Regions from separate parts of the Homo sapiens genome. Here region 2 is linked to region 1. The links come from fine-mapping of genetic effects on gene expression. Tissue or cell type: cerebellum. Region 1 holds a variant in brackets; the other region holds the start of a gene. All regions are shown on one strand. Distances are from middle to middle.

The links. PIP is the estimated chance that this variant, and not a neighbour inherited with it, causes the effect.
Region 2: it holds the start of C1orf74, and the variant in region 1 is fine-mapped to the expression of C1orf74 in cerebellum (GTEx, PIP 0.97).

Annotation. Positions count from the first base shown.
Region 1 is chr1:209,298,019-209,306,306 of GRCh38, reverse strand. No RefSeq gene overlaps it. Among named protein-coding and RNA genes, the nearest start is that of LINC01696, 23 kb to the left of the region's middle. The variant C/A (reference allele first, on the strand shown) is at 3,663.
Region 2 is chr1:209,780,475-209,788,762 of GRCh38, reverse strand. It overlaps C1orf74 (chromosome 1 open reading frame 74), which reads left to right and starts at 4,204. Exons shown (of 2, transcript NM_152485.4): 1 at 4,204-4,385; 2 at 5,054-8,288. The coding sequence starts at 5,129. The coding sequence ends at 5,938. TRAF3IP3 (TRAF3 interacting protein 3) reads right to left here. Exons shown (of 17, transcript NM_025228.4): 15 at 8,157-8,288; 16 at 7,305-7,418; 17 at 6,453-6,707. The coding sequence ends at 6,615. It overlaps IRF6 (interferon regulatory factor 6), which reads left to right. Exons shown (of 9, transcript NM_006147.4): 9 at 119-3,146. The coding sequence ends at 343. RefSeq lists enhancers at 3,266-3,881, 4,066-4,325, 3,882-4,499.

The DNA.
Region 1 (8,288 bases):
AATGGAAGGCTCCGTAAGTACGTTCCTGAGTCCTTGCCTTCAGAATTATGCCCAGAGGGGCACTGACCAAATAAGGTGAGCCATGTTAATGACACCTTGGGTTGAAGACACATTTGAGATTACTCTTTTGCTGTCTTGAAATCCTAAAATCAGGTTACCCTGAATCCATGATGCTTTTCCTAAACTGGAATATTGTAGAAGTTAAATATTCCAAGTGGAAATGGGGATGGAGTCTTCAATTGTGAAGCATTTTATCAAACTGATGTGATTATAGTGTTTTTTACATGAGAACTATCTTCTCCAACAAGTGAAATATCATGACCTGGCATCACCCTACCCTTTCCAAATAGCAGGCAGACAGTTTAGAGCAACGAAAAACAGTGTAAGTGCCCCAAGCACTTTAGGAGCTGAAATAATCACAACTTTCCTCTTGCAACAATGCCTACTGGTTAGAGATTCACAAGACTTTTCACTGTCTTTGTACTTCACTGTTTGTGGGAGGGGTAGATGAAAAGAAAAAAAGAAAGGGGAGAGGCAGGAATGTAGCCCAAGATCTCAGGAGGAGGGAGCCTTTAGCTGGAGCCTCCCTCTTTTTCTCCCAAGAGGATGATATCAGGATAGTAAATTACCAACCCTGGGGAATCAGCTTGTCCCTTTAAGGCTATTAAAGGGACCAAGATGAGCTGGATTCCTAAATGAGCTTTGAGGATTACTCTGCCAGGTGGAAGGTGACTGACCATGGGGGAAAGAGAAATTGGCTCCCAGTATATCATTTTTGAGCTGTCCAACGGTAATCCCCACACTGATTTAAGCAGGAGGCATTTGAGATAGTAATGGACAATTGCCTCTTGCTTTTCTCTGATAACAGCAGGTGCTCTCAGCAGCAGCAGCTTATCCTAGGTATGGAGAATGTGAAAGGTGGGAGCCTTGGACAGGACATGAGGATAGAGGAGAGATGTGGATTGGCACTTGGAGGGACGCGGGACAGATTTGGAAATGGCAGGTATCATCTCAGTCCCCAAAGGGAGCTGCCTCTCAGACTGAGTTTTGGGAAGAAAGATCAGGACTGCTCTTGTTCAGCAGAGGGAATATAGCTTCAGGGGCAGATGTCATTCTTCAAAGGCAGGAGCTAATTTTCTCTCTGGATTAAGGAAAAGATTCATGAGGTCAATGGTGTGGGCTGTGCAACCCACTCAGTGGCTGTCCTGGAAACATCAATCAAGTCCAGGCATCCAGTCTTGACCACTGGCAAATATCTATTTTAGATTGACCCCATCCTCACTTGCTGGAGAGAGGAGATGTTATTCAATGTGTCAGGGAACTTACTAAACTGCTAGATGGCAATATTTTAAAGTTAACTTTAAAAAAAGTGTCCTTGGCATATGAGCTCTGAGAGGATATTGGGATCGTTTTTTGACAGGCGAAAAGCCCTAACACAGGCGTTTGGGTAGATGGATGAGTTAGAGGCTTCATGGGCTTTCACCTGGATGATTGTAATGTCCATAATGGTGGTCTCATCCTCTGAAGTCTCCCCACATCAATCTGCTACCCTCCACACTGTTTTCAGTGTGTAATTTCTAAAAAGGCATTAAAACAAAACAAAACAAAACAAAAAAACCCTTTGCTTAAAAACCTCCAGAGACTCCTGGTTTCTATCATTGATACAGTCTTGGTTCCCCAGCATGCCTATTACTGTATTCATCATCTGATTTCAACATGCTTTTCCAGGCTCATCTCCCATTACTTTTTGCCCCGAATGTCTGCTCCAGCCCCTAGAAACCACACGTTTCCCTGTGGATGTGCTCTTCTCTTTTCTACCTGAGCTTGTTGCTGGTCCCTCTCACTGAAATCTGTCTCCTCCACCATGCTCTGGCAGGGGGATGCCCAAGAACCAGTTCCAATGTCACCTCACTTAAAAGCCTCCTCTGGTAGCTGCCCTTCTGCACACTTCCTGATTAAGGCAGATTTTGTGGTTTCCTCTGCTGTTCTTGCAAATAATTTTTAGTAAATTTCTGCTAGAACACTTGCCCCTGCTGTACAAATTATATTGTAACTTTTTGTTAATATGCCTACCTTCTCCAATGGAACTGGGAGACTATTCTCGTTCACTTTTTTCTTCAGTTTCAGCATCTATTACAGTACCTAGGAGAGGTACTCAGTACATACTGGAAGAGAAAATGAATGAAGGCTTGAATGAATGTAGAAAAGAATAGAGCACAGAAAGAGAGATCTCCAGTGTATAGATAGGAAAGGCCTATATGAGGTTATGTGCTCCCCCGCCCCCAGCCGCTCTCCCCCTTCCAACTTACTGCAGGCAATTTGCACCTAAACTGTCCTTTATTTTTCTGTTCCATCGTGTCTTGTTGCCCTCAATTGCTGTAGTCTGATGTTGACCCTGCATGACAAGCAGATCAACTCCTAATCTGCCAGAGCCCCAGTTTTTCTGGGACATTTGCAAGCTCCTGACAGAACCCGAGGAGAGGAAAACTGTCAGCCCTCACTTGTCAGTTCTTGGAGCAGCCAGTCCAAGGCTTAATTTGCACCTTGAAATCCCCTGGGGCCACCATGGCTCTGATTGCTGGTTTAGGCCCCTTCAATAGTTTATCTTAGGGGATAAGTAGGATAGAAGGATGGAGGATGAGGACTATCACCACTTTATTGTTGCATCTCCAAAAAGTCGGGATGGAGCAGGGGTGTGGGGATAGGGGTGTAGACAGGGAAATAGAAAATGAGGAATGAATAGACTGGTTTTAAGTTTCACATCAAATTAGAATACTAATGGGGAAATTGAGTTGGGAAACATTAAAAAAACACAAAGATGACTCAGTGTAAACAGCACTGTCTAAAAAGCAGCAAAAGATCCACACAGGGAGAAGCTGCACTTGAGTGATAATAAAGGAGGCAGCTAAAGCAAAGAGATCTCCCCGTCTGCACCAGGTTTCTATCACTTAATCAAAACTGACTCCAGCCACTGCAGCTGCAAAAAAATGTTCCCAATCTTCCACTAATTTCCATACAATAACCCTGTAATGGGGGAGCTGTTCGGGGGAGGAGCGCAATCAATCTGGCCTAATGACACACTGGAGACCTGGGGAAAATGCAAACTTGGAGCAATTTCATGGCAGGTGCAACCTTGGAAAGCATTACCATTTTTCTAAGTTAATTTGTTCCCTTGGTATGTTTGAAATCCATATTTGTACTTTAAAGATCTAAAATGCAAGATGATTAAAAAATATAACCGGATTTTTGTAAGCCTTTCAGCAATAGCGGGTGATATATTTGCTGCCTCCCTCCTTCCTCTCCTCTGTGAGCAGGGATCACTTTGCCTTCTTTTATCCTTTGCTGTCATCTGAGGTGGCTGTAGATTCTCTGTTTTGTTTACTTTTTTTAGGTTTTCCCTTGGCTCCCGCCTTCTGGAACCCTTTTGCACTCTGGGCAGAACCAATCTAGGAAATGGCAGCCAGACCTCTGGGTGGGATTTAGACCCTAGAGGAGGAGGAGCAAAGAAATACCATTCCCGGATTGGTCGTGGGTGGAGAGACTGCAATGTCTTCTCCTTGTTTTGGGCTCTTCCTCCGTGCCCAACTTTTCTTCCCAGACAGGTGAAGAAAGGTCCAGGGAAACAAAAACAAAATCTGGCACTTGGCCCTCATTCAAGAAAT[C/A]GAGAATTCAAGAAACAAGTCCCTTGATTTCTCAGTTTCACTGGCCCTCCCCTGGCCTTGCAGCCTGAAGCTGGCGTCTGGAGGTCATCTAGGCAGAGGCCTAGATGTCCTTGGCAAATCCTTTTCCTCTTAGAACTTGTCCTAGGAAGTAAAAGGAGAAGTACTCTCTGCCCCACTGAAATACACACACATTCTCTCTCTGTCTCTTTTTCTCTCTCTCCCCTTCAAACATCTACTTGGAATAAAATGATCATGTGCAGATTTCTGCTCCCTGGTTTGCCATCTTGCCAAAGGTCTTACAGACTAGCACTGTTTATGGAACATGCAGGTAACTTCCCTGCCTCTCCTCCACTTTAATCTAGGGAACTTTACGTTGAAAGAACCCTTTCTAGATTCTTGCGGATTATTCTTCCCATGCTTCAAGTGGCTTTTCCCATTCCGGAAGCAAGGCACGTGGGGAGCCCTGTGTATATCTCTCATTGGTAGGGCATTCAAACAACCAGAACCTCGTAAGTTCTTCCAGCCTTTGAAATAAGGTATATTTCATTCCATTTAGCCTTAAGGTTTATAAATTAATCCAAAAACTCTCTGAGAAATGCATTTGCCGTCATAATTGAGAATTTGATGATAACTTACTCAAGAATCCAGCTCTAAGGCTCATTGATGGTGCTTAGAGTTCAAGGGTTTCATGCTGCTTAACTCTGTTAAGTGCTCTGGGATGAATTAACACTGGAGAGAAACACAGATCTTTTAGGGCCGGAAGTTAGCAGACAGTCTTTTTTTCTGAACTATCATTAATTAGCTCTTTGGGAGCTTTAATTCCTTGCTCAGAAAGAGGGAATTAACATTCATTCCATACTTAGGAAATATTCTCTTTACTGTCTTGCACTGATGCTATCCCAGCACCTTAGTATAGTAGCTGTGAGAATGCCCCATGCAAACCTCTAACTCCTGGGGGGCATAGTTAACCAAGAGTCCCAGCTGCTGGGCTCTGAGCTGCATTACTGTGCTTATGCCAAGGTCACACCTCCCAGAGGTGGCTCCCGGACAGTGACTGAGGTTGGCAGGGATACTAAGGCAAACCAAACTCTAGGAAATACCGGATTCTTTAGATTTCATCTTGATAATTGCCCTATGGCCCTGCTGTACTGTCCTGAGTCTTCATGGTGATCTAAGACAATTCTACCCAATCTTTCTTCCTGTCTTTTTTCTTTGGAAGTCTCAGACTTGCATGGTAGTCTGATGGCTCTTCGCGTCTCCCCAGCTCCCTTCTTATTTTCTCTTACAGGTATATTCTCCATAAAAGTATTTCACCATGTTTAATCTCAGCTTGGTGTCTGTTTATCAAAGAACTTGGACTAACACGAATAGTCGCAGGCACCAGAGAGACTATGTCTCCTGGAAAATGAGAATTCAATTGGTTATATTCCACTAGGCTTCAGCAGTTCAGATAGAATTATTTATTTTGCATTTAAAGGTAAGGACTACAGTATAAAATAATGCCCAAAAAACCTGTTGAACTCTTAGATTTTTATCTTGGTTTTGGAACCTTCCATCTGTGTGCAGAATTCATTTTATTCTAGAAATGTGTTACCTTTCTACTCCTCACCATGTGATCTGTGTATGGCACTCTAGGTAACAGGAGCTGACATTTATTGTTAAACCTGCTTCTTGAATCCCTCTGAGGGAGACCATAAATGTCTCTGATGTTATTCCATATAGAGACTTAAAATGGCAATGTTATCTATATGTGCAATTATGATTCGTCTATTTCTCTCAAAAGATTACAAGTGCTGGAAAGAGGCTGCAACCTTTTTTTTTTTTTTGGTGAAGTGGGGTGAACAGTGGATTTATACAAGCACTGTAGGGTTATGAAAACATTATCTTGAATAAGCTTCTGGGACTAACTTTATTTATCAGGAACTCTTCCCTGGATCAAGAGTTGAAATAACCTGGACAGATTACAGCAGCTATAGTAGGTCTTCCATCTGGGGCAGTTGGGTATACACAAGCTTTAATGCTATCATTTAATCTTTTTGCAAACCACACATAGCAAAATTTTGATTCACATCCTACTGGAGACACTCAATAATTACTTCTAGCTCCTCAGTCTCTCTTTTAATATTCTTTCATTTCTTACCACTTGCATGAAACAGGAGACACGTAGATATAGCTGTGGGTTCCAATTTTTGTGTTTTTCTTTTCTCCCTTTCCCTGAAAAAAAAAATAAAGACAGGTTTTGTTGGAATGAGTAGTATTTTATTTTATAGCAGAAGCCAGTATTTGATTAGAATATTTAGTCAGAGAAGTTTTATCCATTTATGACATCTTCTATCTTCTGGACAAAACGCTTCTGACATAGCTTACTTTTTTATGAGATGGACAAATTTAAAAACAATTTTTCTTTTTTATTATAGAAGTATTCCATGTTTGATTTCTGCGTTCTAAAGTATTAACCGAAAACAAGATTGTTGGCTCATTCCAAATGAAAAACATGGTAACTGCTGTTCCCTAAATTTATTTATCTAGAGGGCAGGTCTGAGATCCCATGTACTTATTTGTTCTTTCTTTCACAAATATTTGTTTAAATTTTATTCAACCAATGTTTATTGAGTTCCTGCCATATGCTAAGTGCTAGGGGTACTTGAATTAACAAAATGGACAAAATGTCTAGCCTCACTAAACTTATCCCTAGTGGAAGACTCAACAATGAGCAAACAAATATTTTATGGGGTAAAACCAACAATATTTCTGATGAATTAACTGTGGGGATGTTAGACAAAAAAAGAGCCAAGGATGAATGCAGGGAACTTAGCTTGAGCTAAATCTACAAAACAGGAGACCATGGAGGAGAAGCAGGTTTGGTGGCAGGCAGACTGGGACTGGGTCAAGAACTCTGTTTTAGACCCTTTAAGTGTGAGATGCCTATGAGATATCCTGGTGGAGATTTCACGGAGGAAGTTGGATGTATAAGTTAAGTTTATGGTGTAGACTGAAACTGAGAATATGTGTTTGGGATAGTACTTATAGCTTTAGGGCTAGATGAGAATTTCAGGAGTATGTTGATAGGGAAGATAAGCATTATAAAAACTAAACTCAGGGGCTCTCTAAATTCAAGAATCAGGCAGAGGAAACATATGTTATAGGGGGCATGTACCATGTGCCAGGCATTAAGCTAAAGGCTGAAGATACAAAGAAGAGAAGGCATTAACTAAACTCATTGAGGACAGGGAATGTGTTTTATTCTCTTCAGATTCCCAGACCCTAGCACATTACTAGCCACATAAGACTTTATTTAACAACAAAAACATTGAAAGGTGGGACTACACAGAGTCTAGTGATAAACCAGAAATTATAATTAATCCAATTCTGTGCATATGAAATCCTATTAGAAAAAAATAAAGCTCATATTCCAGTGATAGAGGCAAAGAAGGCATTACAACACAGCATGAGTGTTTATCAAATATAATTTTGTTCAAAATGTTTTGGGAGTGTAAGGTAGGGACAGCTATGTCTGCTCTGGGTTATCACCAGAAGAAGTGATGCTTCAAAGGAGAGAATTCTCACCAGGCACACAAAGCTGAGGGAGGGCATTTGTCAGATTATTGAAGTCCAACAATTTTGCTGCACAATTTGGTGTCACTGGTTCCTGGGTAGAGTGAACTTCTCCACTATCAACTCTCTGTATTTTCCAACTTTGACTTTATAATTAATCCATTTTCCATGACAAATATGTTTATCTCTTTAAGAAACTTATTTAAACAAATAAACATCTATTTAATGCCTACCTTACATATTATATTCCTATCTGCCTTCAAGAAGCTTTCAAATAATGGAATGAGAAACAGATGTTAGTAGTCAACTACAAGGCAAGCCAAGATAACGTCCTAAACAGAAGTGCGAAGAGGTGTTGTAGGCATACATCAGAAAGAAGAAATGCTTTTGACCAAGGATCAAGGAAGGCTACAGAGAGGAAATAACAATGAGCTTATTCGTGGGACTATATAAGATAAGGGAGTGGAGTATATTTCAGGTTGAGGAAACAGCATGAGCAGGCATAAATATAATATAATGTTTGGTGTGGGAGAAGCAGTGAAATGTGATGTCAATGACTGGGGGGATGTTCCAGGAGACTGGCTAAAATATTGTTGGCAGAAAAATCAGGAAGGGCTTAGGATACCATGCTGAAGAATTTGGACTTTATAGGCAATGGGGATGCTTTTCTGCAAAGGGAAGAGAACTTTTGGGCAACTCCTCAAATATGAAATCAATGGGAGACAACCCTGAGTAAGGTTGAAATGTTTCTCATGACTAAAAAGTAGAGTGAGAATATTATAGGCTACTTCTACTGGGAAGGGTTTGTATAAACCATAACCATATCTTTTAAAGTCCCATTAGGCCTTGCTTCTAGTCCATTAGTTTGGGAATGTTAGGCTGACATTTTTATTCATGTAACCCCATTGTACTCTCAGATATTCCTGTATCCAAGAGAGATAAGTAAACCCTTAGCCTGATCATAGAACTTCTGAATATATATGGTTAGTTGATGACACATTTCTCTCTCCAGTTACCCAAGCTCCATGAAACAATCATAAAGGAACAAAAGGACAAAGTAATTGGGGGAAT
Region 2 (8,288 bases), 480 kb before region 1:
CATCAGAATGGGGTCTTCCTCAGGGCCTCTTTGGTCTGTCCTTCAATCTTGGGTCCATTGTGCTATTTAAAAATACCTTTTCCTCAGAGGATACACCTGTGTTCTGTGTCCTGAACAGGTCATTCCAGTAGTGGCTCGGATGATCTACGAGATGTTTTCTGGTGATTTCACACGATCCTTTGATAGTGGCAGTGTCCGCCTGCAGATCTCAACCCCAGACATCAAGGATAACATCGTTGCTCAGCTGAAGCAGCTGTACCGCATCCTTCAAACCCAGGAGAGCTGGCAGCCCATGCAGCCCACCCCCAGCATGCAACTGCCCCCTGCCCTGCCTCCCCAGTAATTGTGAATGCCATCTTCTTCCTTCTCTTTTTTATAATATTGTACATATGGATTTTTTTATTGTTTAGATTTAACCAGCTTTTAAATCTCTCTTTTCTCTAACAGTGTTAGAAGTTTGTGATTCTCCAAATATGCCTAGATTTAAAGCTGATTTAATTTATGGAAAAATCACCCTTCAGACTTTGCTTTTCTTTTTCAAATCTCCTAATGGTAGTATGATATAGCATAGTAGAAGGAGATTTGGCCTGGGAGTTTGGACACCAAAGTTCTAGCTGCAGCTTTGCTTCCAATGTGACCTTGAACAAGTCCTTTAACCTCTGGGCTTCAGATTTATTGCTTATAAAGTGAAGAGATTGGAGTAGTGCCTGAAATTGCATCCAGCTTTAGAACGGACTCAATGACCTTCTTCTACTTGTACAAGGCTAAACTGCCTGGAACAGAATCCTTCTGCATTGTTCTTGTACCACATTTTTCCTTGGTTTTGTTAAAGTTTCCTCAAGCACTGATTTGTCCAGGATCGAGCTCTGTTTGACCTGTTCTGCTAGTATAGTAAGCTGGCTCCCTGATGGGGGAAGTGAGAGGGAGAGGAGCTGGCTGGCTGGTTGCTTAGAAACTATGCTTGATATCTAAATAGAAATGGGTGCCAAAGTCTGAAAGTCACCCAGCCTGTGGAGTGAAAGCTCACAAATTTGGCTTCTAAAGGGAAGCTGTTGACACAGAAAGCCTAGGGATTCTGTGGAAGAATAGGTTGTCAGGCATTTACCTTATTACCACTCAAATACCAGTGTGTGTGTGTTGGGGGGGCGGCAGGGAGAGGGGGTAGGTGACAGTATGTGACTCAGGTGTTAGCTTTAAGAGGAAAGAGCTCTATTTTTCTTGTTTTCTTCTCTGAGCTAGACTGAGCTGGGGATCTAAGATGTACTTCTCTGACTACAAAAGGGACAGTATCATTTAGATTTTTTGCAGTTGGAAGAAATGGGTTGTTGAGTGTGTTAAGGCTGGGATGAAGAAGGGCTGGGCAGTACTCTTCTGGAAAGGCTCACCTAGCACGAACCTGCTTGTCTCCCTTACTAGTGGAGGTATCTGAGTGTGAACAGTGAAGGTAAAGAGTGGTATAGAACAATGCAGCTGTATCTGTCACAAACTGGTCTTATCTAGAAACATCTGCTGAGTCTCTAACCCTTTCAGCTTTCTCTTCTTTTTTGAGACAGAGTCTTGCTTTGTTGCCCAGGCTGGAGTGCAGTGGCAAGTCACCACTTACTGCAGCTTTAAGCTCCTGGGCTCAAGCAATCGTCCTGCCCCAGCCTCCTGAGTAGTTGGGACAACAGTCGTGCACTATGATGCTTGGCTAATTTTTTTTTTATTTTTGTAGAGATGAGGTCTTGCTATGTTGCCCAGGCTGGTCTTGAACTCCTGGGCTCAAGCAATCTGGGACCTAAATGGCAAATAAGATGCTAATCTGTGGTTGCAAGCCCCAGTCCTCTTGAATAGTGATGCCTATCTGTCTGTGTCGGGACATAGTAAGGAAGCCCATGTCTAGTCTGGTACCTTTAAACCAGGCCATCTCCAACTTTTCAAAATGACTCAAAAGTTGAGCTAGCCTTATTTTAAAAACTAAAAGTTCAAAATCAGTGGTGACATGAGGACTTATTTATTTAAAGTGCTTAAGCCTTGGTTTTAGAGTTTCTAAGAGACCTAGTGGAATTTGCTATTATGAAAAGCATGAAAAGATTAAGAAACCTGGCTAAAGGTCAGGTGCCCAGCTTCGAGGAAAAGTTGGGCTTTTAGGGACCGGGAAGCATTAAAGGCACAGAAACTTTACATTTTGGGGGTCATTTTGTTGAGTAGGTGAAGTGAGGGATTTGGGCTTGATATTTGGCTGCCCCATCTCTACGTGGGAACTCAAAGTTAAAAACCCACTGTAGGTAAATTAGAAGGGCAGCTCTTGAATCTGGGCCAGTCTATATCCCTTCTGTGAAGTGCTAACAGCCAGGCTATCTGTAGCCTGGGTGGGAGCCCAGATAATGTGAGCTGGTAAAGGGTATTGGAAAAGTGCCAAGAAATGCCAAGCTTTTGGTTCGTAACCACTATAAAAAGTTTATGAACATGTCAGAGGAATGGATGAGTGATTTGTGAGGTCTTAACTAGATACCCCGGTTTCTTCCTTGTTTTGGCTTCTTTTCAGAATGCCGGGAGAGTACATGCAGGGATTCCATCTAATCACCCTCAGCACTCTTTCTCTGGTCCTGCTGGATAGATTTAGATTTCCTTTCTTTTTTTAGGGCCTCAGTCTGCTATCTCCTTTGGTGGCTACCACCACTCACTCCCTTGATATCTTCTACTCCCTTGCCTTCACCTTGCTTAAGACTGAGAAGGGAGTTAGATTTTGTCACTAGCTCTTCTTTTTCCTCACTGTGTACCCCACCAAACAAGATTAGTTCAAGTTAAAAAGAACCTACTGGAGGTAAACTGGGAGAGCAAGTGTTGGATCTGGGCTGGTCCCTTTCCCATAAAATTAGGTCCCTGGTTGTATGTTCCCATAGCACCCCATACTTCCTCTCTCAGAATAATCATTTCCCTTGTAATGCTCAGCATCCGCATCCTGCTTGACTGCAAACTTGCTGAAGGTAGGGACTGTTTGTCTTGGACTTCGCTGCCAGTCCTTAGAACAGTGTCTGGGACACAGTGTGTTCTCAAATATTTGTTGCTGGAATAAATGAATGAACTAAATCAGTCTTTTAGGGATTTACTGTTAACCACCATGGGAAAATTAAATAAATGCGGGGAAGGAAAACGTTCTAAAATTAGAAGACTACTTTCTACTCTCAGCTTCTGATTCCCTCTGAGCTAAGAACCAGACAGCCTTAGGCTGGTAACTCCTATAAGCTGGTCCTCCTCCCATGCTGACCCCATCTTTACTGTACAATTCACTTTTCATGGACTGAAGGCACCACCAAGATAGATCCAGGAGTGACAACTCCAGTGTAGGTGTCCACTGTTCCCTTAATCTCTGTCCTGCTCCAAGTATAAATAAATTGGGGCCATTTCCTTAGATATTGGGGTTTTCTCAAGAAATCCTTTCCCTTCGTGGCATGGGTCAAATCGCTGGTAGTTAAAAAGGTGTTAACTCTTACGTGAAATAACACTTTTTCTTTGTAATGACCTGACTGGAAAGCCTCTGTGTCATCACTTCTCATTTCTTATTTGAAATCAGCAAACTGGATTCAGTAGACATGAACTTAAGCCCCATGAAAGTGGGGGTTTTGTCTGTTTTGCTCACTGCAGTACCTCCAGGGCCTAGCAGCATGACTGGCACATATTTGTTCAAAGTGAATACTCACACCTTCACACCCTCCCTAGAGAGCTGTTGTAGGCCTCTCAAATGTAGGATTTAGGGAAGTCAAGTTAAAAAAAATTAAAACGTTTCAGCACCACCCACAGGTGAGGCTATTCTGCAAAATATGTTGTCTTGAGGTATGTTTCGTCTGGACAAAACGTATTTCCACAGACACAAATCAAAGGTGTTTATTAACTGCTGTGTGCCCTGTTTCTGGATTCCCAGTCAAGTGGGACACCAGACGTCATAACACAGGGAGGACGTTCGGCGAAGCAAAATGAGGGCAGCAGCGGGAAACCAGTTTCACCAGGTTCCGCCTTTTCTCGTTTACTTCCGCCCTTCCCAGTTCCTAAGCCGACAGATGGGGCCGCGTTCAGTCTGGCCGGAAAGGGCGGGCCGCACGGTGGCCCAAACTTCCGGCGCGCAGTAAGGCTGCCTAGCTAGTGATTCTAACGCGAGGCGCGCGAGCGGCTGGATGACGTCACGGAATGGGGGGAAAGAGGGCGGCACTCGAGTGGGTGCGCATGCGCAAGAAGGTGCCTGCGGGACTGGAGCAGAGCGGGCTGCGAGGGTCTTCCCAGCGCAGGCGGGTTTTCCAGTGTTACTTGCGGCTGGGCGTGGGGGACTAGCTGCCTTTCTGGCAGCAGGCAGGAAGCCGCAAAAAGTTTCTGAGCCCCCGAACCTGTAGCGGACGTGGAAAAAGAACGTATGTGAGACAGACTTATGCCTCATTTAGCAAATCACTATAACATGCTCTGGTGTGGGGTGTGTGGATCGGAGAAATCTCATCTTCCGAGGGTCCTTGATGTCGGACAGAAAGGGAAGGCGGGGCCAGCAGAAGTTAAAATACTACCCTTCTGCAGTTCTAGTGGATTTCATTCATTCATTTTTATGTGTCAGGGTGAGATGGTTGTTAGTCCACATTCTGGTGTATATTAATCAAATTACTATTCTTATAACTATTCTCTGGCGGGAAGAGTAGGGGAGTTGTCAGTGGAAAGGATACATTTGGAACTTGGAGCTCTGTCCCAGAAGGGCTTTTGGGCGAAATGCTGTGAATTTTGCCAAACACTGCCCCGCCTCCGCCTCTGCCCCAAATTCCCTACGGTTTGAACCAGAGAACGTAATTTGCAACAGGTGAAATTTAGAATAAAAGCCAGAGGGAATATAAATCTAGCTATAAGGCTAGAAAAACACACGAATTTATGATTGAGGGAGACCAAGTCAACCAGAAAAATCAAGCAGCATCGGTGAAACTATCTTGTCTGGGCTGGGTCGCCATTTCAAAGCAGGGAGGGACAGAATAACCTTTGGAAGATACCGCGATTTAACAGGAAGGCTGTTAATAATTCCCTGCTCCTGCTTTGTTTCTAGGCCCCTCCTCAAGTGTCTGGCTGAAAGATGCCACCCAGGGAAGGGAACTCGGGCTAGCTAAGGAGGCCATTCTTGATGTTGCTTCTAGATCTCATGTCATCACCGAGCCCTCAGCTGCTGGTGGCAGCTGCTCAGCAGACCCTTGGCATGGGAAAGAGACGGAGTCCACCCCAAGCCATCTGCCTTCACTTAGCTGGAGAGGTGCTGGCTGTGGCCCGGGGACTGAAGCCAGCTGTGCTCTATGATTGCAACTGTGCAGGGGCATCAGAGCTCCAGAGCTATCTGGAGGAGCTGAAGGGGCTTGGCTTCCTGACTTTTGGACTTCACATCCTTGAGATTGGAGAAAACAGCCTGATTGTCAGTCCTGAGCATGTATGTCAGCACTTGGAGCAGGTGCTGCTTGGTACCATAGCCTTTGTGGATGTTTCCAGCTGCCAGCGTCACCCTTCTGTCTGCTCCCTGGACCAGCTTCAGGACTTGAAGGCCCTCGTGGCTGAGATCATCACACATTTGCAGGGGCTGCAGAGGGACTTATCTCTAGCAGTCTCCTACAGCAGGCTCCATTCCTCAGACTGGAATCTGTGTACTGTATTTGGGATCCTCCTGGGCTATCCTGTTCCCTATACCTTTCACCTGAACCAGGGAGATGACAACTGCTTAGCTCTGACTCCACTACGAGTATTCACTGCCCGGATCTCATGGTTGCTAGGTCAACCCCCAATCCTGCTCTATTCTTTTAGTGTCCCAGAGAGTTTGTTCCCAGGCCTGAGGGACATTCTAAACACCTGGGAGAAGGACCTCAGAACCCGATTTAGGACTCAGAATGACTTTGCTGATCTCAGCATCTCCTCTGAGATAGTCACACTGCCGGCTGTGGCCCTCTGACTTTAACTCTCCTCCCATATAGAAGGTACTCAGTAAATGATCATCTCTAGGTTGGGGATGGCAAATAATCATCTCAACTGCCAATTCCAAGTGTCTTGAATACACTAAGGCACAATGCTGTAGATCAGTTGGCCACAAATGCAAAGGGCATGTAAATAGGTAATGGTGGTGCTAGTAGCAAATTGGTAGATAGTACATACTTGCCATTTCTATACTAGGAAGTCCTCTTAGTGGAGATGTTTTCATTTTCACTGGATAAAAGATAGAAGGAAGGAGATGATAGAGGAAAAGCAGGGTGATGGAAGACAAGCCAAACACTCTTGCATGGTAACCTTGTAAATATACCTGCTCTATGTGGGTGCTGCATGCTAGGAAAGTAGGGCTGGGGGCTTTTCTGCATGTTTATATGCCTCCAACTGAATTTGAGGAGAGTAGACCACCAGTATGCTTAAATATGTGATACTTGTTAATGTAATACACCATTCAGGAATAAACTGAGAGTTCTGAGGAACAATCTGGTCAGGTGAAGTTTATTTACAGTAGGTTAAGAAATTAATAAAAAGTCAGAAATCCTAAGTCAGTTGGAAAACCCAAGCTGTAATGTACCCAAACCTTCTGAGTTTTTCGCTGAGTTGCTTGCTTCTGATTTTCACCCAAGGCAGTTGTCACAAATTATTCAGATCATCAGGTTGTCTTTATTGGCCAGGAACACTGCCAGTGCTGCAGCAATCACCACCATCAGCACTGGGAGCCATCGCCCACATTGCCTCTGTAGGGGGACAGGGAGACAGAAGAAAGTGGCCATGAGTGGATTGGAAAAGATATAGGCAAAAATCTTTCTTCTTCCTACTCTAGCCCAGTGGAAAACGCTGGGTTGGTGGTGGAGAAAAAGCTTTTTACTCTGTCTCCCATTTTGTCACCTGTCTTGGGATAAAACCACTTAACCAATGTTCTCTGGCCCAGGGAGCCGTATCCATCAGGGACCAGATATATAAATACTGATATGAATAATGAAGGGTGGAAAATAACCCAGCAAAATTATATTCTTTCTTTGTATTCCCCAGTACTTTTGTGTCCTTCTGTTCTTGCCACCATGCTTATCATCGGCTAAAAGAACACCCTTTCATACTTTAGCTAAGAGTAAGTCTTTCCTTCTGGCATTGAGAGTTCTGTGAAAGTTGGGCTTTGATGGACGAGCCAGTGTTTTTTTCAATGGTTGCCATAATGTCAGTATAGTATAAACCAAGCACAGTGGGACAGGATGGCCAGTTGTTGGCGTGGGCTGATATATTTTATGTGCAAAACTTGGTTAAAGAAGGAATCGTCCCATCATCCAGGGCTTTATGGGAAGGAGAGACCCTCTTACTCTGGGAGGCAGCTGCTGGCTCTGGTTCAGCTCTTCTCGACAGTGCTGCAGCTTACGCAGGCAGGAGAGATACTCGTCACTGAGGTTGTCTAATTCTGAATGCAGTTCTCTGCACTGGGGAGAACATCACCAAAGTCATCACTGTCACTTCTGTCTAGGACAGAGCCCAGGCAGGGGAGACTGCCCTTTGTAAGTTTCACTCATTTGGAATTTTTACCACCATCTTCCCTTCCCAGCCATTCTCAGGGATTTGAGTTTGTCTTTTGACTGTCTTACATTGTCTGGAATGTGTTCATTTAAATGATTGACAGTAATGCATATTATAGTATTACATTTTATACATTTAAGTTCTTTTATATGACTTTACGTGCAAGTGCTTTGCAAATGAGAGACACCGAAAAATGAAGTTCTTATAGAACAAACGACCTAGAAGTGACCTTAGTACAAGTTTCTTTCCCAGGAGCTAGTTGCATATCAATACTTCTGGGGATGTGTATGTTTGTGAGTATGTACAAAGGAAGAGTTTTACTCTTTAAGAGACATATAAAGACTTAAGATACTCAATGTGGGACGACATATTGAGAAGTTAATATTTTTATTAAATGTGTTTGAGTTTTGGTCGACTTTCTAAAAGGTAATCATTTAATAAAACCTTGAATAGGAGTTGGTATAAATAAGGAAGGGAAAAGATTGACAAGTCAGCCCAAAAGCACAGACACTTTATGTAGGCAAATGAATGTCTGTGGTTATCCACTCACAACTTAAACTTTGAAATCCCTGCTTTTTGACTGCCTCCCAGGTTTCTCTGCTATTTCGCAAATGAGCCCTCACTATCTCAGGTCACCCTCTCACCTCCTTTTCCTTGGCCTGGAGCTGCAAAGTCTTCTTTTGCAGCTGGTCTCTGAGATCCCAGTCTTTCTCCTTCCCTGTACCCTCAGGCTCCACTTCGTTAGGGAAGGACTTTGGACTCCACACGGGCAAAGC